Homo sapiens: one gene and its partners. The protein of the gene in region 2 binds, or shares a complex with, the protein of the main gene of each other region. Each region holds a gene or a part of one and is shown on either strand. Other genes may lie near its edges. The genes, in order: CIRSR, HDAC2, MTA1, SAP130, CHD4, DNTTIP1 and CHD5.

Evidence for each region.
Region 1: HDAC2 (region 2) and CIRSR share a complex: the UniProt entries of both Homo sapiens proteins name them as parts of the histone deacetylase complex.
Region 3: HDAC2 (region 2) and MTA1 share a complex: the UniProt entries of both Homo sapiens proteins name them as parts of the nucleosome remodeling and deacetylase (NuRD) repressor complex.
Region 4: HDAC2 (region 2) and SAP130 share a complex: the UniProt entries of both Homo sapiens proteins name them as parts of the mSin3A corepressor complex.
Region 5: HDAC2 (region 2) and CHD4 share a complex: the UniProt entries of both Homo sapiens proteins name them as parts of the nucleosome remodeling and deacetylase (NuRD) repressor complex.
Region 6: HDAC2 (region 2) and DNTTIP1 share a complex: the UniProt entries of both Homo sapiens proteins name them as parts of the histone deacetylase complex.
Region 7: HDAC2 (region 2) and CHD5 share a complex: the UniProt entries of both Homo sapiens proteins name them as parts of the nucleosome remodeling and deacetylase (NuRD) repressor complex.

What each region holds. Positions count from the first base shown.
Region 1 is NC_000002.12:174,354,213-174,357,712, reverse strand, and holds part of CIRSR (corepressor interacting with RBPJ 1), read left to right. Parts: intron 1-3,500. UniProt on the Homo sapiens protein: May modulate splice site selection during alternative splicing of pre-mRNAs. Regulates transcription and acts as corepressor for RBPJ. Recruits RBPJ to the Sin3-histone deacetylase complex (HDAC). Required for RBPJ-mediated repression of transcription.
Region 2 is NC_000006.12:113,940,149-113,943,648, reverse strand, and holds part of HDAC2 (histone deacetylase 2), read left to right. Parts: intron 1-142; coding exon 143-298; intron 299-1,883; coding exon 1,884-1,941; intron 1,942-2,560; coding exon 2,561-2,591; 3' UTR 2,592-3,500. UniProt on the Homo sapiens protein: Histone deacetylase that catalyzes the deacetylation of lysine residues on the N-terminal part of the core histones (H2A, H2B, H3 and H4).
Region 3 is NC_000014.9:105,464,827-105,468,027, reverse strand, and holds part of MTA1 (metastasis-associated protein MTA1), read right to left. Parts: coding exon 3,165-3,201; intron 2,935-3,164; coding exon 2,845-2,934; intron 1,603-2,844; coding exon 1,450-1,602; intron 1,322-1,449; coding exon 1,286-1,321; intron 1-1,285. UniProt on the Homo sapiens protein: Transcriptional coregulator which can act as both a transcriptional corepressor and coactivator. Acts as a component of the histone deacetylase NuRD complex which participates in the remodeling of chromatin.
Region 4 is NC_000002.12:127,944,560-127,948,059, reverse strand, and holds part of SAP130 (histone deacetylase complex subunit SAP130), read left to right. Parts: intron 1-2,500; coding exon 2,501-2,604; intron 2,605-3,500. UniProt on the Homo sapiens protein: Acts as a transcriptional repressor. May function in the assembly and/or enzymatic activity of the mSin3A corepressor complex or in mediating interactions between the complex and other regulatory complexes.
Region 5 is NC_000012.12:6,590,380-6,593,879, forward strand, and holds part of CHD4 (chromodomain-helicase-DNA-binding protein 4), read right to left. Parts: intron 3,238-3,500; coding exon 3,037-3,237; intron 2,850-3,036; coding exon 2,712-2,849; intron 2,439-2,711; coding exon 2,317-2,438; intron 2,188-2,316; coding exon 2,014-2,187; intron 1,679-2,013; coding exon 1,537-1,678; intron 1,447-1,536; coding exon 1,315-1,446; intron 1,205-1,314; coding exon 1,087-1,204; intron 1-1,086. UniProt on the Homo sapiens protein: ATP-dependent chromatin-remodeling factor that binds and distorts nucleosomal DNA. Acts as a component of the histone deacetylase NuRD complex which participates in the remodeling of chromatin.
Region 6 is NC_000020.11:45,801,954-45,805,453, reverse strand, and holds part of DNTTIP1 (deoxynucleotidyltransferase terminal-interacting protein 1), read right to left. Parts: intron 3,456-3,500; coding exon 3,397-3,455; intron 2,122-3,396; coding exon 2,076-2,121; intron 309-2,075; coding exon 250-308; intron 149-249; coding exon 88-148; intron 1-87. UniProt on the Homo sapiens protein: Increases DNTT terminal deoxynucleotidyltransferase activity (in vitro). Also acts as a transcriptional regulator, binding to the consensus sequence 5'-GNTGCATG-3' following an AT-tract.
Region 7 is NC_000001.11:6,124,822-6,128,321, forward strand, and holds part of CHD5 (chromodomain-helicase-DNA-binding protein 5), read right to left. Parts: intron 3,398-3,500; coding exon 3,225-3,397; intron 1,926-3,224; coding exon 1,751-1,925; intron 1,038-1,750; coding exon 945-1,037; intron 792-944; coding exon 703-791; intron 413-702; coding exon 279-412; intron 1-278. UniProt on the Homo sapiens protein: ATP-dependent chromatin-remodeling factor that binds DNA through histones and regulates gene transcription. May specifically recognize and bind trimethylated 'Lys-27' (H3K27me3) and non-methylated 'Lys-4' of histone H3.

The DNA of each region.
Region 1 (3,500 bases), on a different chromosome or scaffold from region 2:
AAGATAATTCTTGATAAGTCCCATTAGACACATATCTCCCTCCTGATCACATACTCTAACTAGTGTCTAACTGTCCTTTTTACATTTAGTGACAGGGACTGGCTTATTCGCTAGATATAGCCAATTTAACTTTAGGAAAGAAAAAGGGACAGAAGATTGTACTTTCTTTCATTTGTGATAATGTTGGGGTTTATTTTAAAACAACTTTTATGGTTATATTACTGTTAGTTTGACTGCAATAAATACATGGGAAAGTGATTACAAGAACATACAAGTAGTCTTGGCCTCCTTTTTCTTTAGCTAGAAACATGTTTTAATTAACCAGAAGTGTATTTTCAGGTGTCATTTTCCTAAATCCAAACTTTACAAAACTTGCCATATATTCCCCCAAAGTATGTGGTATAAAATATCAAAATAATTTAATAATAAGCCTCTAGACTTAACTACCAATTTATAGGAAATATAAGAGCTAGAGAAACATGTTAAATGGCATCACTGTCCAGAATGTGGGAAATCTACAGGACAAATTACCCAATTTCTTTAACAAATGAATAACAATAGGGAGGGGAAGATAGGTAAATGTTTTAGATTAAAAGAGATCTATAAATCAAATACAATATGTGGACCTTGTTTGTATCCTAATCTGAGCAAACCAACTGTAAAAAGATACTTTTGAGACAGTTTGAGAAATCTGAATGTTGACTATTCGATGACATTTTAAAATTATCAATGTTGAGAAGCATAATAAAGGTATTGAGGTTGAGATTTTATTTAAAATATTCTATGAAAAAAATAAATTTGGAAGTAATAGCTAAGACAAGAATGACAAAATATTGTTAATTGTTGAAGCTATGTGATGTAGGTTTGCAATTTTCCGTAGTATAAAGTTAAATTAAAACACACACACAATGAGAAGGGAAAAAAAATAGATCATCACTGTAATAGGAAGCAAAACTATATTCACTTTAGGGTAGCAATTTAGTTTCAGCCAACAGTGGCATCCTATAAATTAAGTACATAATATATTAAATTTGGGAGAAGGAGAGACAGGCCAGTCAGTCAGTCTGTCCTCTTTCCTTCCCCTTCCCCTTCTTCCTTCCTTCCTTCTTCCCTCCCTCCCTCTTTCTTTCTTTCCTTTCTTTCTCCTTTCTTTCTTCCTTTCCTTCCTTCCTTCCTTCCTTTCTTCTTTCTTTCTTTCTTCCTTCCCTTCTTCCTTCCCGTCTGTCTTTTTTTCTGTCTGTCTTTTGACAGGATCTCACTCTGTTGCTGAGGCCGGAGTGCAGTGGTGAGATCACAGGCTCACTGCACCCTCAACCTCCTGTGTTCAAGTGATCCTCCCACCTCACCCTCTCTAGTAGCTGGGAGTATAGGCATGTGCGCCACCACGGCCAGCTAATTTTTGTATTTTTTGTAGAGACAGGGTCTCACCATGTTGCCCAAGCTGGTCTTGAACTCCTGGACTCAGGCGATCCACCCGCCTCTGCCTCCCAAAGTGCCGGGACTACAGGCATGAGCCACTGCGCCTGGCCAGGAAAGGCATTTCTAATTCAGCCTTACCTAACCTACAACTCACTGCCCCCTTTTCTCCTACTTAATACCATAAAATTGTAGGTGATAATGCATTGTTTGAAAAGAATGATGGGCCAGGTGTGGTGGCTCACACCTGTAATCCCAGCACTTTGGGAGGCCGAGGTGGGTGGATCACGAGGTCAGGAGATCAAGACCATCCTGGCTAAAGAAAAGAATGATGAACTTCGAATGGAGCAGATGGACCTAGTGTTTGCAGTGAAACACAAGTGTCTTTGACTTCAGCTTTAGTCTCCCTCCTATGCCATTTGTGGCATTCCCCTGGGACTGCCATACTATAATTGTGGAGTCAGTTGTATGCCATTTCCTCATAGCCAGAACTTTTGAGTTTATATATTATTCTTTGATAAAATACCTATTTTACAACAGGACATTCTTTTTTTACCTTTCATTGTTTTTGTTCTGTAAAAATGAATACTCTTAGTGAGTAGATTAAGCGCTTTACACACATAATTTTGTATAGCATAATTTACCTTCTAGGAATTTTTTCTTTCCTGAGACTCGATTTCATGGTATTTTTCTAGTAGAGCCTGGGTCTAATCAGAACATGGAACTGTACACAATTGGTATTTTGATACTTATCCATATCACAGCAAAGAAAAGTTTGTAAAATAAATGAATGTTGAAAGCAGTTTCTTCAGTGGACCTGCTTTTCTAAGTGGGAACATTGGTTTTCAATGCTGTGAAGGCTTGGCTGAGATGATCTAGAAAGGAGCCCTCACAAATCTGCATTTTAGAACAAATGCCTTCTTTCTGAATTCTCTAGTATTATTCTACCATGACAAATTTAAGAATAAGCCAAACAATTTTTAAGATCCAACTCCAGCTATAATTGAAATTATTAAGGCACCATACATAAAAGTAGTTATTTTACATTTGAACATATTTGTGTAATCTATTTTATCAACGTATCTGTAATCATCTATTTTATCAACCAAATTTTGAGTTCTCAAAAGATCTGGAGTCATTTCTGTCAGTGTAACTCTACGTAGCCTCTGTCATAATAATGTGAAAGTAGAAAGATACTTGCTAAATATATCTTGATTAAACCTGACTTGTTTCATCTCCTAAACCTAGAACTTTAAACTCAGAACTTTGGTTGATAGGAGAAGGTTTAAGTATAAAAAAAATGTGAATAAGACTGCATTGTGAAAAGTATTACTACTAAGAGCATTTTTTTGTATTATGAAAAGTACCGTAAGATAGTCATGGAATTTGGATAGTGGCCGGGTGCAGTGGCTTACAACTGTAATCCCAGTACTTTGGGAGACCTAGGCAGGTGTATTATTTGAGCTGAGGCATTCAAGACCAGCCTGGGCAACATGGCAAAACCCTGTCTCTACCAAAAAAAAAAATATATATATATATAATATATATACATATGTAAAATATATATTATATAATATATATTATATTATATATAATATATGTATTATATAATATATAAAATATATAATATATATTATATAATATATAAAAATATATAATATATATTATATAATATATAAAATATATAATATAATATATATTATATGATATATATAATATATAATATAATATATAAAATATATATAATATAATATATATTATATAATATATAAAATATATTATATGATATATATAATATAATTTATATAATATAATATATATTATATATATTTTATATATTATATTATATAATATATTATATATATCATATAATATATATTATATATAATATATAAAATATATATGTACATATATAAGTAATATATGTACATATATAATATATCTTATAAAAAGACAATTTCTTATATAAGAAAGTTGAATAGGTACTGGTAAAAATAATAGTTGTTACTCTTTATTAAGTACTATTTGTCGAGCACTTCACTAAGCACTCTATTTACAGTCATACATTGTGAAAGTGTGCTAAA
Region 2 (3,500 bases):
TCAAATTTTAAAATCATTAGGCATGTTACCCTTTACGTTTAAATGTGGTAACTAACTGCTTAGTGCATTTGTATGAGTATGCTGTAATGATTATAAAACCTGTGACTGTTTTTGTCAAAATTTATTAAAATATTCTGTGCAGTTCGAGCATCAGACAAGCGGATAGCTTGTGATGAAGAATTCTCAGATTCTGAGGATGAAGGAGAAGGAGGTCGAAGAAATGTGGCTGATCATAAGAAAGGAGCAAAGAAAGCTAGAATTGAAGAAGATAAGAAAGAAACAGAGGACAAAAAAACAGGTCAGATTTGTTTCTTGGTAATTGTGTTTTAATTGTAAATTTTAAAAATTGGGCTGCATTATAATGTTTATGCTATCGAGAAGTCAGTTGCACAGGTATCAGGAGGAAGTATGCTAGGTAGGTGACTCTTTTTTCTTACATATAAGTGGTACTTAGCTCTTAAAGCTTTTATATAAATGTTATTGTTCCTATTTGCTTTAGTAATACAGGAAACCTTATTTTCTTGATAACATAGGTTTAAAATAGTGAACATTGCATTGTGATATAGATTGGTTAAGAAAGAGGACAAAGTAATTATGAATCTATTGGTAGTGCATGGTCAGAACTGAACTTCTAAGGTAATTTTTAGCTACCTAAAGCTTATTTAATGGGAGAAAACACAAAGAAGAGTTACATATCCTTAGACCAGTTTTGCCATTTTGAAAAAGGTCAAATAATGGATTTTGTTCAGAAATTGAAGAAAACATTAAAAACTCTGAGGAAAGCTAGGAGGGGATTTGGGACCTGGGTTAGGGAGGAAAAAATACTTTGATACATTGCCTTACTTTAAAACGCTGTGTTAGCTTTAGGCAATTGAATTTGCTACCGGAATCTGTTACCTTTCATCTGACTTCCCAGAACACTTACACATGCCTCTGCCATTTTATTTAACACATCATATTATAGCACCTCACAGGATTTTGTCTCCCTACTAGACTGAGCTGCTCATGGCTAGGGAACACAGTATCTTAAATATTTGTATTCTCAGCACTTGATGCATTTCCTAATGCAAGTAATGGTGATGAGCACACGTTTTAGTTAACCTGTTAATTTTGATCCTGTAGTATGTGAAAAACTGATTTAGAGATAATGATCCAATTTTTCCTATGTCTATCAAATTGAAGTTATGTGAATAAGCCAGCTTTTTTTTTTTTTTTTAAACTAGAGAGTTAGTAATCTATAACATCTGACACATTTAGTTCTGTTCTTTTACTTGTGGATTCACTCCTCAATAGGCTACATACAGAAATTTATAATTTTAACTTCCCAATGTATTACAATGATGGCTTCAGTCTATATTTGTAACTGATTGACATCCAAAAATTCAAGCCATGACTGAATTAAGGACGACTTAACTTTAGCTGTAGGATTTTCCTAACTTTTTTTCTTTTCTTTCATTTTCACTATGTTTTCTTGTCTGTCTGTTTTTGGTGTTCTCATTTTTAAAAGCTTTATCTTTTCTGTGCTTAAAAAATAAACTCTCTATTTGGTGATGAGGCTCTTTCGATAGGGCCTTGCAGTTGTTAAAATTCTTCAGCCTACTGAAAAATGAAATACTACCACAGAAAGCTTTTTTTAAATCTATAGGTCAAAACCTAGAGTTAGGGCCACCTTTTCTCCCTCTGCACCCCAATCCAGTGACTATTCATAGCTTGTACTGCCATCGTTTAGGAAACACCCAACACAAAGCTTATTTAGACCGAATTCATTAATAATAAGATTGCATAACTTTTTATATTTTAAAAATAAAGTATATTTTGAAATAATATATATACATTTTATATTTCAAAATAGGTTTTAATCTTTTCCCAATCTTTATTTTTAGACGTTAAGGAAGAAGATAAATCCAAGGACAACAGTGGTGAAAAAACAGATACCAAAGGGTAAATGATGTTCCTTATCAAGTACTTTTTACATACTATAAAAATACTAAACATGTTTATTGGTGTGTGTTTGTGTACACACTTCAGAAATACTAGACTGAACCTTAGAACATCATTATGAGGTGCTCTGAATTTTAGTTTGTATTGGTACATAAGACAACATATGCCATCTTACCTATTGGTTTATCAGTATAACTATATCAGTCAGTTTGTATTCTTGTACGTAGTTTATCTGAGACCCTTTTTTGCTGTTATCTTTTATATATGCACTTAATGGTTTTCATGGTGTTCTTATTTCTGTGTACATGATTTTTTTAGTGTTGTGAGATAGGTAAATTTAAGAAACAATTTTAAGTAAAAACAGTTGAGGATTTTAGTGTCAGAAAGCATGTAAATGTTTGGGCACACATAATTTTGTGCCAGCCTTTACAGGATAACTTGGAATAGTTTATTAAATCACTAGAAAAATTAAGGCATTAATTACTCCAGAAACACTTAAGACATTATCAATTAATGTGTTTCTTAGCATGAGCCTACAGGACCTGATCAATATAATAGGTCAGTGCATTTAAACCAAGATTGTGCCATTTTTAATATTTCACATTGCCTCTTTTAACAGAACCAAATCAGAACAGCTCAGCAACCCCTGAATTTGACAGTCTCACCAATTTCAGAAAATCATTAAAAAGAAAATATTGAAAGGAAAATGTTTTCTTTTTGAAGACTTCTGGCTTCATTTTATACTACTTTGGCATGGACTGTATTTATTTTCAAATGGCTTTTTCGTTTTTGTTTTTCTTGGCAAGTTTTATTGTGAGTTTTTCTAATTATGAAGCAAAATTTCTTTTCTCCACCATGCTTTATGTGATAGTATTTAAAATTGATGTGAGTTATTATGTCAAAAAAACTGATCTATTAAAGAAGTAATTGGCCTTTCTGAGCTGATTTTTCCATCTTTTGTAATTATCTTTATTAAAAAATTGTACTTGGATTATCTTTTGTCTGTTTATTACTACAATATGAAGTCTTGTTTCAGTGGCTAATGACATCATTTCTGTAGACTTACAATACACTCTAGGTGAAAGATAATGATTACAGCTTGAAAGATAACTATTTGCTGTTTCTTTGGGAAGAGTATTTATAGTAATTATTACTTATCTTTGCAATAGAAATTCTACCACCTTGCCCTCTATAGCTTAGCCAGTTAGTATCAGTGAAGATTAACATCCCATTACAATTTATGAAATAATACAGACTCTGCAATTGAGATGTAGGAGTTCTTTGAGTTGACCCAAAGATTCTCAAAATTGAAATGGAAATTCTGAATTGAAAGAAGAAACTGACCAGAACTTGTATTGACCAGACTTGCCTATAGTATATTGCTGGTTTAAAATGGAACCTGCAGACAAAACCTGTTTCTTTTACTGCATTTACATGGCATCCAGGTTCCATTATTATTTACGTGACATCCAGGTTTCTAACTCAAGGAAATAAACACAACTGATTTATCATTCAGCAACTACTTATTGTGTGTCTGCCCATTTTAAGACTGTAGGAGT
Region 3 (3,201 bases), on a different chromosome or scaffold from region 2:
GGCTGACCCCTCTGAGCCCAGGGCCCCGCCCAGCCAGGCGGCAAGGGGTGATGCTCCCTCACAAGCACTGCATGGCTGGGACTCACGTGTGAGGTGTGGAAAATTCAGTGGGAACAAATAAGCTTTTATGTAACTTGCTGGTTAACCGCTTTTTACAAAACAAAACAAAAAGCTCGAAGATGCCTGCTGACAAGGACTCCCTCCTGTTTCTACCAGCTCTTATGGGGCTGTTCCTGGGACGCCCTGCCATTAGGAACAGACAAGTAAAGCCAGCCCAGAGTGGGCTGGCCCTGGGCCCAGGACTAGGCAATGGGGGCAGCCCCAATACCAGATGGCTGGGAGGGTGCCCCAGGAAAGGAGGGCTGGGGCTGGGGCCGAGACACAGACACCGCCAAGGGATGTCGGGAGGAAGCTGCAAGGACAGGCCAGGGGTGCGTGTCCAGACAGGTGGAGATGGGGGGCCCGGCACCCGATCTCAGGCCCACCCTGCGCTGCAGCCGGCGTGCTGACCCCACAGGACGTGCCTGCCAGGACACCCAGCAGCCTCGAGAGAATGCCCCAAGGGGACAGGGTTGGCTGGGCTGGGCAGCCACTACCCATATCCACCTCCAGGTCGCCAAACCGGCCCTGCTGCCCTGGCCAGCACCGTCAGTGAAAGCCGCCTGGCGAAGGGGCTCCAGGCACATCCACACTGGCAGGCCCAGCACTTGCACACCCGGGCCCCACACACCTGGCCTCCTCATGCTAGGCTTGGTCCTATCTGCTCTTCCCCAAGGGGCCTGGGGTCCCGCAGCCCCTGCTCCAAGCAACCGGCACAGAGCACCTGAGCCAGTCCTCCGACAGAAGGCACCCATGTGTACAAGCTCAGTTGCCCACGGCCCACACAGACACCCCCGACCACCCTCCCCACTGTCCCGCCTGGCAGGCGCACGGAAGGATTGCAGGCACAGCACGGGCGGCCCCACGAGCTGAGGCTGGCAGCATGCGGGCAGTCACAGCGCGATGGCAGACAGCGCAGGCAGGGGCGCCAGGGCCACACGTGCCAGGACAGTCCACTGACAGGAGGCGGGGCCAGGGGGCCGAGGGCCAGATGCCTGGGCTCGGGGGGTCTTCACCAAGGGACCAGTGATGTCGGGAGGAATGTGGGGAACTGGGCTGTGGCCTGGCTCACGTGGACTGCCCCAAGCATGGGCCCTGGGCCGCCCGCCGCGGGGACACAGAGCAGCACAGCACAGGCATCACGGGCGGGGCCGGCGCAGCGCCCGCCCGCGGCTCCAGGCCTTACCCCTACTGGGCATCAAGAGGCGCTTCTTCATGTTGCCTGGCAGCGCCGGGGTGGGAGAGAGGGAGAGAAGACAGCGTCAGCACGCACGGCGGGTGCCCGGGCGGGGACGGGCCGGACTCACCGGGCGGGGAGGGCCACACTCACCGGGCGGGGGGGCCACTCACCGTCCACCCCGTTGTGCTGCTCGTAGCTGCGCTTGCCCAGGATGGTGGGGGAGCCGTTGTTGATGACGGGGGCCACCTTGGCGGGCGTCAGGCTGCTGAGCACGCTGGACACGCTTTTCACGGGGTCAGGCTTGGGGGGGCGGGGGTGGGTCTCTGCCGGGAATGACACAGGCAGAACGAGTTGCCTCTGCCCAGCAGGGGAGGGGCAGGCAGGCCCAGGCTCCAGCCCTCATGGTTCCGGGATACCCCCAGGAACTAAGCCCCATGCGGCCCCCACCCGAGGCCCCATCCTGACTGGGCTGGAAGTGGGGAGGTCACCACAGAACCAGAAGCCCAGAAGCCCTCGGCAAGGCGTGTGCCCGGGCCAGTCCCGCACCCCAGGGCTTCCAGAGAGCAGGGAGACCACCTGGCGGGGGCCAGGCCCCTCAGCCCCGGGACAACAGGATCCATACACAGGCCCGTGAGCACAGCACGCCTATTAAACAGCCCCCACGTCCAGGCCCCCGGAGCTGCTGGTGGAGGGCTGGCTGCTCGTCAGACAGCGAACCAACCATCCAGCCAGCCTGGCCAGGGACACAGCTGCTGAGGACCAGCCCTGACACCAGCCACCTCTTCCCACAGGACAGGGGCCACAACCCCAAACAGGGAGCAATGCCAAAGCCACTTGAATCTCAGAGCACACTTGGCTCATGACTCTGGAATGTCCTTCTCAGGACAGTCACCCTGTGTCGGGAGGGCAGATGCACAAGCCCACTCGAGCCCAGCAAATGGAGGAGGCCCCCCACCGCCACCACAAATGTCTGGCCCAGCCACCAAGCTGCTTCCAGCTGGGCCAGGGTAGCCGGCTGAGGTTCTCGGGTGTCCTCAGATGCTCAAAGGCAAAGGAACCCCCTGCCGCCTGAGGCTGCTCCTCCCCCTGCCGAGGGCGTGCAGAGGCCTGAGTGCTGCCCCTGTGGAGTGGGCGTGGCTCAGGAAGTATACTCCCTGCAGGCAGCAGGTACGACGCTGCCTTAATGGTATTACAGGCAGGGGTGTGCACCACCTAAACCCCAGACCCTCAGGCCCCAGGGACGATCAGAACACAGGGAACAGGGTAGCGAGACTGGCAGGGAAGCCCCCGGGTGTGCCTTGAGGAGGCTGGCCCCGCAGAAGACAGGGCGGCCGCTACTCCGCACTGGGCCCCATCACGACCCCAGGAGCAGGGAGCAGCCTGGGTCCCAGTGGGTCTGCCTGAGCCTGGCACGGTGCAGAGTACCCCAAAAGGACAGTTCCAGGCCCTGGGGGGCTGTCCAGGAGCTCCCAGCTAGAGAAGGCTGGGAGCACCAGTGCATGAGCTTGGGTGAGAAGCTGCCTGCAGGCAGCATTGGGAGCCCCCCAGCACGCCTGGCTGCTCACCAAGATACCGAAGCACGGCTTCCAGCGGCTTGCGTACCGCCTGCTTCAGCACCAGCGGGCTCTGGGAGGCTTCGGGCAGCCGCGCCGTGCCTGCGGGGTACCACACGGTGTGAGGGGTGGGGCACCCCCAGGGGAGCACGGGACCCTGCCTGCGCCTTGACCTGGGAGCCCTCACTGGGCTCGGCCATGTCAGCACCGAGGAGGACGTGGGGCTCCCTGAGATCAGAACTCCCAGTGGGGCTACAGGCTGGGCCCCAAGGTTGCTGCTCTCTCCCCACCACCCGCAGGAACAGAGTAAGCGGGGCGTTGGGGTGACTCACACTCGGCCTTGATGGCCGCGCTGTTGATGGGCAGGTA
Region 4 (3,500 bases), on a different chromosome or scaffold from region 2:
CCAGCACTTTGGGAGGCCAAGATGGCTGGATCACCTGAGGTCAGGAGTTCAAGACCAGCTTGGCCAACATGGTGAAACCTCGTCCCTACTGAAAATATAAAAATTAGCCAGGCATGGTGGTACACACCTGTAATTTCAACTATTCAGGAGGCTGAGGCAGGAGAATTGCATGAATCCCCGGGAAGTGGAGGTTTGCAGTAAGCCGAGATCATGCTACTGCTCTTCAGCCTAGGTGACAGAGTGAGACTCCGTCTCAAAACACACACACACACACACACACACACACACACACACAGACACACACAATACAAAATTAATTCACACAATATGAAATTAATTTACAGAAAAGCAGGAGTGGCTATATTAATGTCACATAGAGTAAAATTCTGAGGAAAGAAAATTGCTAGAGACACAGAGGGATATTACATACTGATAAGATAATCGGCTGACCAGGTAATGATCCATTTCTCTGCAGTGTCTTTTAAAATATAGGCAAGGACATTCCAAATTTATTTTATGAAGCCAATATTTTCATGCTATCAACACCAGACAGAGTGTACAAATATAGAAAATGACAGATCAATATTCCTCATGAATATAGATGTAAAAATGCATTAATAAAATATTAGCAAATCAGATCCAGCAGTATATACCTTGACCAAGTAGAATTTTTTCTTGCTGTGCAAAGCTGGTTCAACATTTGAAAACCAAAGTAATCCACCATATTAACTGGCCTTATTAATTTCCTAGGGTTGCCATAACAAAGTACTGTGAACTGGGTGGCATAAAACAGTACAAATTATTCTCATGGTTCTGGGGGCTAGAAGTCCAGAATAAAGGTCTGATAGGATCATGTTCTCTGTGAAAGCAGTAGAGGAGAATCCTTCCTTGTCTCTTTGGTTTCTTGTGATTGCCAGCGATCTTTGGTGTTCCTGGCTTGCACCTGCACCACTCCAGTCCCTGCCTCCATCTTCAAATGGCATTCTTCTCTGTGTCTCTCTGCCTCTCCCATCCTCCTTTCTCTCTCTCTCTCCTTCTCTCCCCTTCCTTTTCTCTCTCTCTCTCTACTTCTCTGTCTCCCTCCCTCCTTGTATGGACACCAGTCATTGGATTTACAGCTCACCTTAATCTAGTATGACTTCTTAACCAAATTACCTTTTTTGTTTGTTTTTTCTTGTGACGGAGTCTCGCTCTGTCCCCCAGGCTGCAGTACAATGGTGCGATCTTAGCTCACTGCAACCTCCGCCTCCTGGGTTCAAGCAATTCTCCTGCCTCAGCCTCCTGAGTAGCTGGGATTATAGGCGCCCACCACCACACCCCGCTAATTTTTTGTATTTTTAGTAGAGACAGGGTTTCACCATGTTGGCCAGGCTGGTCTCGAACTCCTGACCTCAAGTGATCCACCTGCCTCGGCCTCCCAAAGTGCTGGGATTACAGGTGTGAGCCACTGCGGTCAGACTACATTACATTCTAATATAGTTATAGTCACAGGTACCAAGGATCTTCAACATGTCTTTGGGGGGAAAACCATTCAACCCACAACAAAAGCTAAAGAAGAAAAATCACATGATTGTATCAATCAATATAGAAAATTTGACAAAATTAAACACCTTTTCATGATAAACAGTGTTCAAAAACAGAAAAAGAAGGGTTCTTCCTTGATTTGATAAAGTTGTTCTGCCCTTGGAAAGGCTCCCCCAGCTGTCTTATGCTTTGTTCTTTCCTTCAAACCAGCCTGCACATAGTCTAGGCTATATCTTCATTAGTTCACAAATCTCCCCCAATTCCCTTTGCCACAGCCTCCACTGTTATGGGGAGCACCTTTAGGTTTGAACTTCTTCACACTCTTGCAAATGGACTCACTTCCTTCAGGAAGAAATTAGAAGGTATCTGTTTTACAGCCCACTTCTTCCGGCAAAATGTTTGAACCAGGGCCTTAGAGATGGGGGAGGCCCTGGCTTGACACGTGGCAAGCTTCTCTCTGAGTGACAGCCCTGCTTTAGGAGGTAGCACTTAGTGGAGGTAAAGGAGGGGAGTAAGCAGCCTGGTGTCCTCTTGGCTTGCCTCTCCTAGATGAAACCATTACCTCAAATAAAAAAGTTCTTATGGCCAGGTACGGCAGCTCATGCCTATAATCCCAACACTTTGGGAGGCCATGGCAGGCAAATTGCTTGAGCCCAGGAGTTCAAGACCAACCTGGGCAACATAGCAAGACCTCATCTCTACAAAAAATACAAAAGTGAGCCCAGCATGATGGCGCACACCTGTAGTCCCAGCTACTTGGGAGGCCGAAGTGGGAGAATCATTTGAGCCTAGGAGGCAGGGGTTGCAGTGACCTGAGATTGTACCACTGCACTTCAGCCTGGGTGACAGAGCCAGACACTGTCTCAAAAAAAAAATAAAATTCTTGTTAAAATAATGGCATTTACACTGCTCGAACACAAATCATTTACCTTTTTAAACACTGAAATACATGTATTTTTATTTTTTATGGTTCCAGAGGAGAAGAAAGCTATGCTGCAGGAAATAGCTAATCAGAAAGGAGTATCCTGTCGTGCTCAAGGCTGGAAAGTCCACCTCTGTGCTGCCCAGTTACTACAGCTGGTAGGTGGAGTTCTAGCAGTTGTTCATCATGCTGAAGAGAGGAGAAGACACTGCAGATAGCTGAGTTCATAGAACTTTTTAAAAGTAACTCTGAAGCATTCCCAGCTAACATGGGTTATGATAGAATTTTTATGTGTGCTATGTAATATCACACTGTGTCAGTTACATGTGATTAAAATTGAAATATATCTAAGTTCTGGTATCCAGATCCAAAATATATGGAACAACTGTGGTGTAAGACCTAAATTTAAGATTCAGTGTTATGTGATATTGTGACATCTGAAATAGGGGGAGCCTCAAACGGCCTAACCGAGAGTCCCTCCTCCCAACTCTGCTCCCTCAGATGAAGTCTCCTAGGCAAACAACCCTTCATACCACAGGGACCAGGCACACAATTCCTGCTCCTTGCTGAGTAGTAGGCTCCAGTTCCCTGCCAGCTTCCAGTATTCCAATTTCCAATGTTACTCAGATAAGCCAGTCACACACATCATCATTCAGAGACCGGGGCATACCTCTCCCTCTCTCCTGTTCTTTTTTTTTTTTTTTTTTTTTTTGAGACAAGGTCTTGCTCTGTTACCCAGGTTGGAGTGCAGTGGCACGACCATGGCTTACTACAGCCATGATCAACCTGCTGGGCTTAAGTTAATCCTCTCACCTCAGCACCCCCAAACAGCTGGGACTGCAGGTGTGAGCCACTGCACACAGCTGATTTTTTAAAATTTTTTGTAGAGGCCAGGCACGGTGGCTCACATCTGTAATCCCAGCACTTTGGGAGGCCGAGGTGGACAGATCACGAGGTCAGGAGTTCGAGACCATGGCCAACATGGTGAAACCCCTGTCTCTACTAAAAATACAAAAATAAGCTGGGCGTGGTGGCAGGCGCCTGTAATGCCAGC
Region 5 (3,500 bases), on a different chromosome or scaffold from region 2:
TTCTAGTTTTGATCATTGTACTGCAGTTACGTAAGTTATTATTAAGAGAAGCTAGCTAGTTGAACAGTATACATGAACTCTCTCTGCTGTTTTGCAACTTTTTTCTAAGTCTAAAATTAAAATAAAAAGTTTTTTTTTTTTAAACAAGGAGTAGTGATACTGAGCACAGTGGCTTATGCCTATAATCTCAATACTTTGGGAGGCCAAGGCAGGAGGATTGCTTGAGCCCAGAACTTTGTGATCAGCCTGGGCAACATGGCAAGACCCCATCTCTACAAAAAAATTTTTTTAGTTAGCTAGGTACAGTGGATCAAGCCTACAGCCCCAGCTAGTTGGGAGGCTGAAGCAGCAGGATCACTTGAGCCTGGGGGTGTGTCCAGGCTGTAGTAAGCCATGATTGTGCCACTGCTCTCCAGCCTCGGCAACAGAGTGAGACCCTATCTCGAATAAACAAAACAAAACAGGCTGGGCGTGGTGGCTCGTGCCTGTAATCCCAGCACTTTGGGAGGCCGAGGTGGGCGGATCATGAGGTCAGGAGATCGAGACCATCTTGGCCAACATGGTGAAACCACATCTCTACTAAAAATACAAAAATTAGCTGGGCGTGGTGGCACACGCCTGTTGTCCCAGCTACTTGGGAGGCTGAGGCAGGAGAACTGCTTGAACCCGGGAGGCGGAGGTTGCAGTGAGCCAAGATCGTGCCGCTGCACTCCAGCCTGGGCGACAGAGCAAGACTCCATCTCAAAAAAAAAAAAAAAAAAAAAAAAAAAAACCTAGTAGCGTCTACTGAGGCAGACAAGTCTGCTAGTAACTTGCTATTTGAGCTTGAACAAGTCCTGACCCTTTGCTTGCCCTCGAGATACAATGCTTTCTTCTTTCTAGCAGAAAGAACAAATACCCCAAAAGAAAAAATCTCCTAGGAATAGTCCAATACATTCGTCCAATTGAGACATTCAAAAGCTTTACTCCATCTCAAATGACAAAGTCCCAAAAGAACTACACAGAAAAGGAGATGCACAAGAAGTTACAGTCCAAAGATATAAGCAAATGAGGATTCCTGAAACTAAACAACTCCTTCTCTCTCACCATTGAAGCGGTCAATGGCCTCTTGCCGCATGTTCCCAGTGATTCCACCATCGATGCGTTCGTATTTATAACCTTCATGTTCCAAGAAATCCTCTAGCAGGTCTAGCATCTTGGTCATCTGCAAAAGAAGCACGGTTTAATTATGGAAGAGTCAGATGGTAATCCCTTTCCTTAGGTCACTAAGGGTTGTCTATGACTGTTCCCTAAAGCTCCCAGTCCACATGATACCTGGGAAAAGATGAGTACACGATGCCCACCCTCCTTAAGGTTCTTGAGCATTTTCTGCAGCAGCAATAATTTCCCAGATGCTCTGATTAGGGCACTGCCATCATACATGCCATTAGGCATCTTAGGAGCTTCCTGAGAACAAATGCAAAGAAAAAAGTATTAAAAGAAAGCCCACATGGAGAAGACCCAACCCAGGGAGGAACAGGAGATGGCACTACATACCATTGCAGCCACAGGGAAGAGGTATGGATGGTTGCAGCACTTCTTAAGATCCATCACCACATTCAGCAGAGACACCTGGTTGCCACCACCTCGGGCATTGAGTGCTTCAAAATTTCGAGTGAGGATGTACTTGTAGTATTTCCTACATGGGCAAGGTAGAAAGACAGGTTAGACTTGAGAGCCTTTCAATGACTAATAATGCAGTGCCAACAACTGAGATCTTTCTTCCAACACATCCCACTTTGGAACTAAGGACACCTAACGCACAAGCACTACCACCACCACCATTTTAAATAAGGAAAGGTATAACCTAAAATAAGTAAGAACTATGCGCTCCAGCGCCCTAGCATCAGGTTTCTTCAGGCCTTGCTTGCTCCTGTCACCAGATGCCTTGAAGCTGAGTGGGGGAGGAATAGGAAACACTCTGCAGACTGGCAGATGTCTAAATGGAGTCTGCTTCTGTCCCTCCCAACTCACTTCTGCATAGGGCTCAGCTCCACACGCACAATTAGTTCTGTCTTGGAGGGCATGTTCTTGAACACATCGGCTTTGAGCCGCCGCAACATGTGCGGCCCCAGCATGTCATGCAGTTTTTTTATCTGGTCCTCCTTGGCAATGTCAGCAAACTCCTCCAAAAAACCTTCCAAATTGCTTCAGAAAGAAAAAGGAAAAAAGTTATTGGAGAAGGAGAAAGGAAGAAAGAAAAGTGATACAGGAAATGGGCAACAGGAAGAATGAGAGGCACAATTATGAGCCGATTACAGATAAACACATACTTACTGGAACCTCTCGGGGGTGAGAAAGTTGAGCAGATGAAACAACTCTTCCAGATTGTTTTGTAATGGTGTCCCAGTCAGCAACAGCTTGTGCTGGAGTGAGTAACCATTCAATACCCGGAAGAACTGGTGAAGCAGATGGAGAAAGGTGAAATCCAATGAAAACAGAGCTCTAGCAAATCTCTACAAAATTTCAAGTTTTTCACTGCCCAATAGTTAAGCATCCCACTCCTCACATTCTTTTTAAAGGCCTGGCCACCAAGGGCTGTCACATACAAGGAAGGAAGGCAGAGACAATTTTCCCCTCTCCTCTCCATCTACAAGTTTTCCCCTTAATGAATTGGTAGTACTAGAAAAAACCCAAAGTGGGGGCTCCAACATCCCTCCCTCAGCCCTCACCTTAGACTGATTGTTCTTCAGCCGATGGGCTTCATCCACGATGAGGCAGGCCCAATCAATAGAGCCCAAAATAGCCATGTCAATGGTGATCAATTCATAGGATGTCAGCAGCACATGGAATTTCACAGATGCCTCTTTCTGCACATGAAGGCAACTTGGTCACTACTAGTCAGTTCCTCTGTGTAAGCACAACCAGGAGACTGATGGAATGTTTTCCTCCTCCCAGGGTTACCCTTTTGCCTCACCAGGGACCAGATCACAAGGAGGTAAACTAAGCCAGAAGCCACAACTCTTTCTCTAGGGTGGCTTCCCTCCCCTGAGATACCTTCATGCGGGAGGCCTTCTTGCCACCACGAATGGCATTGTCTTCAAAGGAGAACTCATTCTCTCGGATGATGGCACGGCTGTCCTTGTCACCCACATAGGTTACGACATACATGTCTGGAGCCCACATTTCAAACTCCCGCTCCCAGTTGATGATGGTAGAAAGAGGGGCGCTCACTAGGAAGGGGCCTTTGGAATGACCCTTTGAGAAAAAAGAGGAGAGTCAGGACTGAGGGCCCCAGCACACTGCAACCCCAGCGAACACCCACCACCCTGCTGCCCCCTCAAGCTGAGCCAAGGACTGACACACCTGCGCTGCTGCTCCTGCTCTCACCTTCCTCTATACAAGTGCCCAGCCCACTCCTTTCCAAAAACCCAAGGTCCCACCATAACTACAAGTCTTACCTCTCCCATTAAGTCTTTATATACTTTTTTTCTGAGACGGAGTTTCACTCTTGTTGCCCA
Region 6 (3,500 bases), on a different chromosome or scaffold from region 2:
GTGTTTGTTCTAAGCTTCTCTGTGCTGAGTGGAGTTCCCAGTCTACTCCCAATGCAATGGCCTGCTTTCCTCCCAGCAGTCACCTACCTTAAAGAGGTGTGGGTGCTTGATGTAGATTCTTCCTCTGGTGCCCCCCATCCCCAGGGCTCTGAAAAGTAAAAGCCAAGTGGTCAAGATTCCAGAAAGTGTAGTCCTACTAGTGAACTCCTGAGCTGTTTCCTCAATCAGTGCCAAAGCTCTTAAACTTACTTGTTGGCTCGAGATCCCAACACAAAGGTGGTAGATTCATTCAGGCGAGCTGGGTCCCACTGTGCAAAAAATAGAGAAGCTCGTGAGGGTGAAGTTTAATCTGATGGGTAGGACAGAAACACTCCTCCCCCTACCCTTTTCTAACCCTTCCCCTTGTCTATTATTTAATCAACAGTTGACCCAAGACACTGAGTACTCACAATATGCTAGGCCCTGTCTGTGCTAGATACTGGGGATAAAGAGATGAATAAGATACAGTCTCTGTTTTCTAGGATGCCACCAACATATGTACAGATAATTACACCATTGTGCGATGAGGCAAGGACACAAGTGAGTGCAGGGTCTGAGGGCTGCCGAGGGGAGGGTCCAGCCAGGAAGGCTTCCTTAGAGAGGCATTTCCCAAGTTAATTCTGAAAGGGTGAGCACAAGTTGGGGTAAAGGGGGTCAGGAACAAGGGCATTCCAGACAGGGGGCAGCATGAGCAAAGACAGGTGAGAGGCAGCTTGGCCTGCTGGAGAAACTACTAGTAATTCTGTGCTGCTAACAGAGAGAGTACAAATTAGGGAGTGGCAGCTGATGGGGCTGGAGAGAGAAACACAGAGGAGTTGGAGGTCTTAGGAGGTTATGTTCAGGGGACTGCATTTTATTTCTTCTGTAGGCAATGGGGAATCGCTGAAGGCCTCTAAACAGGGAGTGAGAGTCAGATTTCCTTTAAAGATAGCTTAGTCTTCTAGCAATGTGGATAATGGATTTGAAGGGGCAAGACTACAGGCAGGGAGAGCAGTTTAGAGGCCGCTGTGATAAAGCAGTTGGAAAGCTGCTAAGGGCCTGAGCTAGGGCAGCAGTAAGGATGAACAGAAGGAAATAGGAACTGCAATATATTTAAGAGGAAGAATTGTCCAGGACTCGACTGGGTGTAGGGAGGTAAGGAAGAGGAGGAGGAGGCAAAGATGATTAAGATAACGAATGTAAAGAAGGGCTGTGAGGAAAGATTCTAATTTCATGTTTGGATATGCTGAGTCTGAAATGCCTATGAAACTTCCAGCAGAGTGGTCAAGCAGATAGTAGGATAAACAAGTTTTAAAGTAGAAAGAGGCATGGGATGGACAAAGAGGTATGGGAGTTTTAGAACATGGTGGTCCCTGAAACCATAAGAGTATATGTTTTAGATTATCCAGAGAGTTACTTTAGATGGAGAAGTGGGCCAAGGAGAGAATTCTGGGGAACAACCATTTATATAAGTCACTGCTGAGGAAGAACTCAGGAGAGAGAGGGAGGCAACAGAGGCTAATGGTTGAGAGCACAGACTCTGGTGTCAGCGGGTCTTGGGTTTGAGACTCAGCTCGATCACTTACGAGTTATGTGACTTTGGGCAAGTCTTAAGTGCATTAAGTGTATAAGACAACTGAATAAAATAATTTATGCCCACAGGGAAGCTGGCAGAAAAGGAAACGCCTCATTTATAGAATGGTTCACAGAATTGATCTCATAAGTTTGTTATAAAGATTAAATGAGATGGTCTACACAAAAGATTTAGGACACTGCCCGTTACATACTAAGTATTGAATCAGTATTAGTGACCACTAACTCCTATAAGGAGAAGGCTTCAGCAAAGACTCAAGCCCTCTCTTTGTTTTGCCTCTAACTCCAATTCCTACACAGGATCCTCTCTGAGGCCAGTGTGGCTGGAGGTGGAGAGGGGCAGATGGCTCTGGAATGGTGTGCATGCACCCTTCGCCCCCTGCCCCTTTCCCTCATGGTGGGTCCTAGAGATAGTGGGACTATCTCCTGGGATCGTGATCTCTGCCATGCTCACATAATCATACCTTGGGGCCTTCCCGGCGAATTGGTTCACAGGATTTTGGTTTCCATCTGCTTGGAAGGAAAGAATAAAGGTGAATTCTCCAAGGTGAGACCTAGGACTAAATGCCAGCTTGCTGGTGGTGGTAGGAGTTCCTCACACACTCTCACTTTAGCCCTGGACATCCTCCTTCGTGGTGACACATAAGAGGAGGAACAAAGGGAAAAAAAGCACTGGACTAGAAGCCATTCTAGCACTAGCTCTGCTCTTACATAGTGGCATGAGCAACTCCAAGAACCTCTGAGTGGCAGTTTTCTCATCTGTCAAAAGAGACAAAAACAGCAACTGCCCTACCTATCTTGTGTTTGTGAGGAATAAAACTGCTTCGTGTAGGAGACACATCTAAGGTATGACAGTTAATACTAGCCCATCTACTAAGCCAGCTGTTCCAAACTAACCCCACGCCCCTGAACCAGACCAGTGTGGCTTTATTTGATTTAAATACTGGGCTCCCATGTAAAGTTTTGTTTGAAAAAGATTCTGCTGCTTCAGAATTTTTTTTAAAAAGTGGGGTTGGGGGTTGGTTGAGGGGGAAGGAAGGATGAACAGGCAGAACACAGAGGATTTTTAGGGCACTGAAAGCACTCAGTGTGATACTAGAATGGTGGATGCCTGTCACTATGCATTTGTCTAAGTTCATGTACAATACCAAGAGTGAACCCTCATGGAAACTATGCACTCTGAGGATCAAGACGAGTCAAAGTAGGCTCATCAAATGTAACAAATGTACCACTCTGGTGCCTGATGTCGATAATGGGGGAGGCTGTGCATGTGTAGGGTCAGGGAGTATACGGGATATGTCTGTACCTTCCTCTCAATTTTGCTGTGAACCTAAAACTGCTCTAAAAAAATTAAGTCTTAAAAAAATATATATTTGAAAATGACCGTCTTGGAGGCAATGTTAACGATATGACATTAGGCAAGTAATTCTCTGAGTCTGTTATCTGAAAAATTAATGATATCTTCTTTACAGGGTGGCTATAAAGATTAAAAGGTAAAGTATGTAACGTATTTAGACCAGTCATAAGCATCCAATATATACTAACAATGACAAACCTCTGGAGTTTAATCTTTCATCAAGCTGGGCCAAACCGTTCAGGGGGTAAAACAATTTCCTCCTCACTACCCTCCTTCCTCACCCCTCCAACCAGGATAACCCCCCTCCACGATGACTTAAGCTGATGGATCTGATTTTGACAGGCACAGAACCCTGGACTCTTTTCCTTCAGGGCCCCTCTCTCCGTCTGCTCCCCTATGCTCTCACCACACTGTTGGTCCCTACTCACACCATGCCGGCGGCTGCCCGGTCGCTTGACAGGATGTGTCCAGGAGGCCGTCCTTTCCTCTGCCACAAAAAACAGCTGTCAGAGGTCTGACCCTGTGGTTACTC
Region 7 (3,500 bases), on a different chromosome or scaffold from region 2:
CCCTGGCGAGGGGACCTCCTAGGACAGCCCTGGGTGACCGGGATCTTCCTCGCTGCCATAACACCAGCTGGTTTGGGCAGGGGCGGATGGTCAGTGTTTGCAAATCAGCCCTGCCCGGCACCAGGACTCTAGCCACCCAAAGTCCAAGTGGCAGTGAACTTTCCAGACGGCCTCATCCTGGCGGAAGCAAATGCTGCCCTCTGTGGGGCTCACCCGCAGGACCCTGCCCTACTCAGGGGCAGGTGGTCACACCCTGGGCCACCACCTAGCCCCTTTACCTAAACTCCTTCTCGCTCTTCCCTCGAAGGTCCCGCACCAGCCAGTGGGAGTTGAAGGCGTCCTGCGGGGGCATGCCCCAGCGCATGATGGCGTTCAGAAAGGCCTTCCGCTGTCGGGCATTGAAGCCCAGCACCTGGGCGAGTGGAGCGTGGGAGTATGAGCCCAGGACAGAGAGGGGTGGGGGTGGAGGATTCTGGGATGGGGGAAGAAAAGCATGGGAGGAGGAGAAGGTAGGAAGGGGGCACAGAGAAGGCAGGGGCCTCCACCTGGGGCAGGACCCTGACGGCGAAGACCAGACCAAGTTCTGTCCAAGCTCCGCCTCTACCTGGCATGAGACCCGGGGCAGTCCCCCAGCCCTCCTCCATACCCCAGGGGCAGCAGGAAGCAGGGGCAGAAAGAGATGCGGGAACAGACAGGCCCCACCTCGATGTTGCCACCAACTCGGGCGAGAAGCGGGGGCAGGGGCTTGTCCCTGTCACTCTTCAGCTGCCTCCGGGATTGTCGTCGTCCACCTGGGGAGCAGCCCGCCACAGTTCCTCAGGTGGGAGCCCAGAGATTCCTGATCCCCAAGGACAGCGGGACCCCAGACCAGCCCCGCTCCTGCTGCCATCAGCTCCCCTGACATGGCCTCAGCAGTAGCCCAGACCACTAACACTGAGACTCACTCTGCCCTTCCGGCCTCTCTTCAAAGTCCTCATCCTCATCCTCAGAGCCAATGGAATATTCTGACTGGTTATCAGAGAGCTCATCCTGCCACTCTGCAGGGGGCCAGACAGAGGGGCACGGAGTGAGCTGTACAAGCAAAGCCCACCCTCAAGTTCAAGCATGCCCAGGGCCACGCCGAGCCCCTGCACCCCAGCTCCATAAAAAAGCAGTGACAATGGCCCACATACTTCCTGTGGGCTCATTTAGTAATCCCAACACCACCACGTTATACACTAAGGGTACCATGTGTACCCACACATTACACATACTGTGTGCAAGGGACGTGCCCAAGGCCACGTCACGAGCAGTGGTGAAGTCACTGAACTGAGCCACACCTTGTTCCCCCAAACACCCAGCACCTCTGCACCTGCCCCCAGTCCCCTTTCCTCCAAAAAGCTGCCTCCCAGCTCCAACCAGCGCCGCCCAGCGTTCCTGGCCCCCACCTCCCGGGGGGGTCCTGCACAGGGATGCCCCAACAGAATCCTGCCCCACCCTCCACCTCTGGGTATGGGACACCCATCCCTCCTGGCACACTCGCCCAGCTCTCCCGGCCCGCACCTCCCGGGGGTTCTGCACAGGGATGCCCTGACAGAATCCTGCCCCACCCTCCGCCTCTGGGTATGGGACACCCATCCCTCCTGGCACACTCGCCCAGCTCTCCCGGCCCGCACCTCCCGGGGGTTCTGCACAGGGATGCCCTGACAGAATCCTGCCCCACCCTCCGCCTCTGGGTGAGGGGCACCAGTCCCTCCCTCCCGGCACGCACCCTGGTCCTCCTGGGAGGCATCGTTGTAGTTGACCTGCTTGCGGATGCGCTTGCCCTTGCCCAGGTTGCGGGCCAGGTCCTCCTGCTGCTGCTCATAGTGGTGCCGCAGCAGCTTCTCCCAGTAGTCGGGGTCCACGTTCTCCTCCTGCTTGATGATTTCCCGCTCCACCTCCTCCTGGGGACGCAGCACCACGGGTTCCATGGGTGGAGCCATCTCTGCCCTCCCGGAAGCCTCAGGCTGCCTCCACCTGACCTGCCCTTTGCCCCCTCAGGGCTCAAGGATTAATGGGATGGCCTGCCTACTCCAGGAAGCCTTCTCTGATCACCCCGGCCCTAGCTAGCTTTTCTCTCCCTGCCCCTATCCAGTCAATCATTTACTTATTCATCCATCCATTCACAAAGCAAGTATTTCCTCGCCTCCTGTCAAGCACTGAGGTACTGAGTTGAATAAGCTCCCCCTTGCCTGCCCTCAGGAGGCTCCTGGTTTCAAAGGAAAAGGTCATGGGCTCACCAGGTCTGCACGGAGGGTGGGGAGCAGAGGAGGAAACGGAAAGGCCTCCAGGAGAGACCCACAAGGAGCTCTTCGGGGACAGCTGGGGTTTGCCCGGTAGAGAAGGGAGAAAAGTGTGGGGTGGACCAGGCGTGGTGGCTCATTCCTTAACCCCAGAACTTTGGGAGGCCGAAGCAGGTAGATCACCTGAGGTCAGGAGTTCAAAACCAGCCTGGCCAACATGGCAAAGTCCCATCTCTACTAAAAATACAAAGATTAGACAGGCGTGGTGGTGCATGCCAGTAATCCCAGCTACTTGGGAGCTGAGGCACGAGAATCACTTAAACCTGGGAGGCGTTGGTTGCAGTGAGCTGATACTGCGCCACTGCACTCCAGCCGGGGCGACAGAGCGAGACTCCATTTCAAGAAAAAAAAAAAAAGAAAATTGTGGGCCGTCCTGGAACGTTGGCGGTCCAGGTGCAGGGCCGAGATGCAGGCCCTGAGGAAGGGGCGGGAGGGTGCAGCTGGGTAGGGACTGAAACCAGACCCCGGGGACAGGGCTCTGTGCAACGGGGTGGCAGATCAGCTTGCACTTCAGAGAGTGGGGAAGCTGGACTGGAGCCGGGATGACGCCACGGAGCAGGCGGCTGATGTGTGCAAGGGCAGTGGCCGGCCCATGTGGCTGTACTGCCCTCAGCGCTGCCTCCGTCCCTTCCCTCACTGTTGTGTCTCTAGTCCTGAGCCCGCGGGTGGAGCGACAGGGCCGCCCTGCAGAGGCCGGAGCACGTGGTTGGAGGGCGGAGCACACGCTGGAGTGCGGGGCACAGCAGGGAGGGCGGGGCTGCGGCTGGAGGGCGGGGTCACAGCTTGGAGGGCTGGCTGCGGCGGGAGGGCGGGGTCACAGTGGAAGGCGTGGACACAGTGGGGGGCGGGGCTGCGGATGGAGGGCGGGGCTGCGGATGGAGGGCGGGCCGGGGACCTTACCACGCCGTCCTCCTCGCGCACCACGTACTGCGCCACCTTGAAGGAGCTCAGGTACTCGTTCATGTTCTGTAGCTCCGTGTCATCTGTAGCGTCCTGGTTCCGGTCCAGCAGCTTGGAGATGGCCGCATCGTCATAGTGGATCACACTGCTGTCCTCCACGTCCTTGTTGTCACCTGGGGAGCAGGCAAATGCAGTGTGAGGACAAAGACTGCCCTGGTCCAGCCCCGGGGTCCCAGGAACAGACTCCCAACAATGGCCCTTCCCATCCCCAGCAGG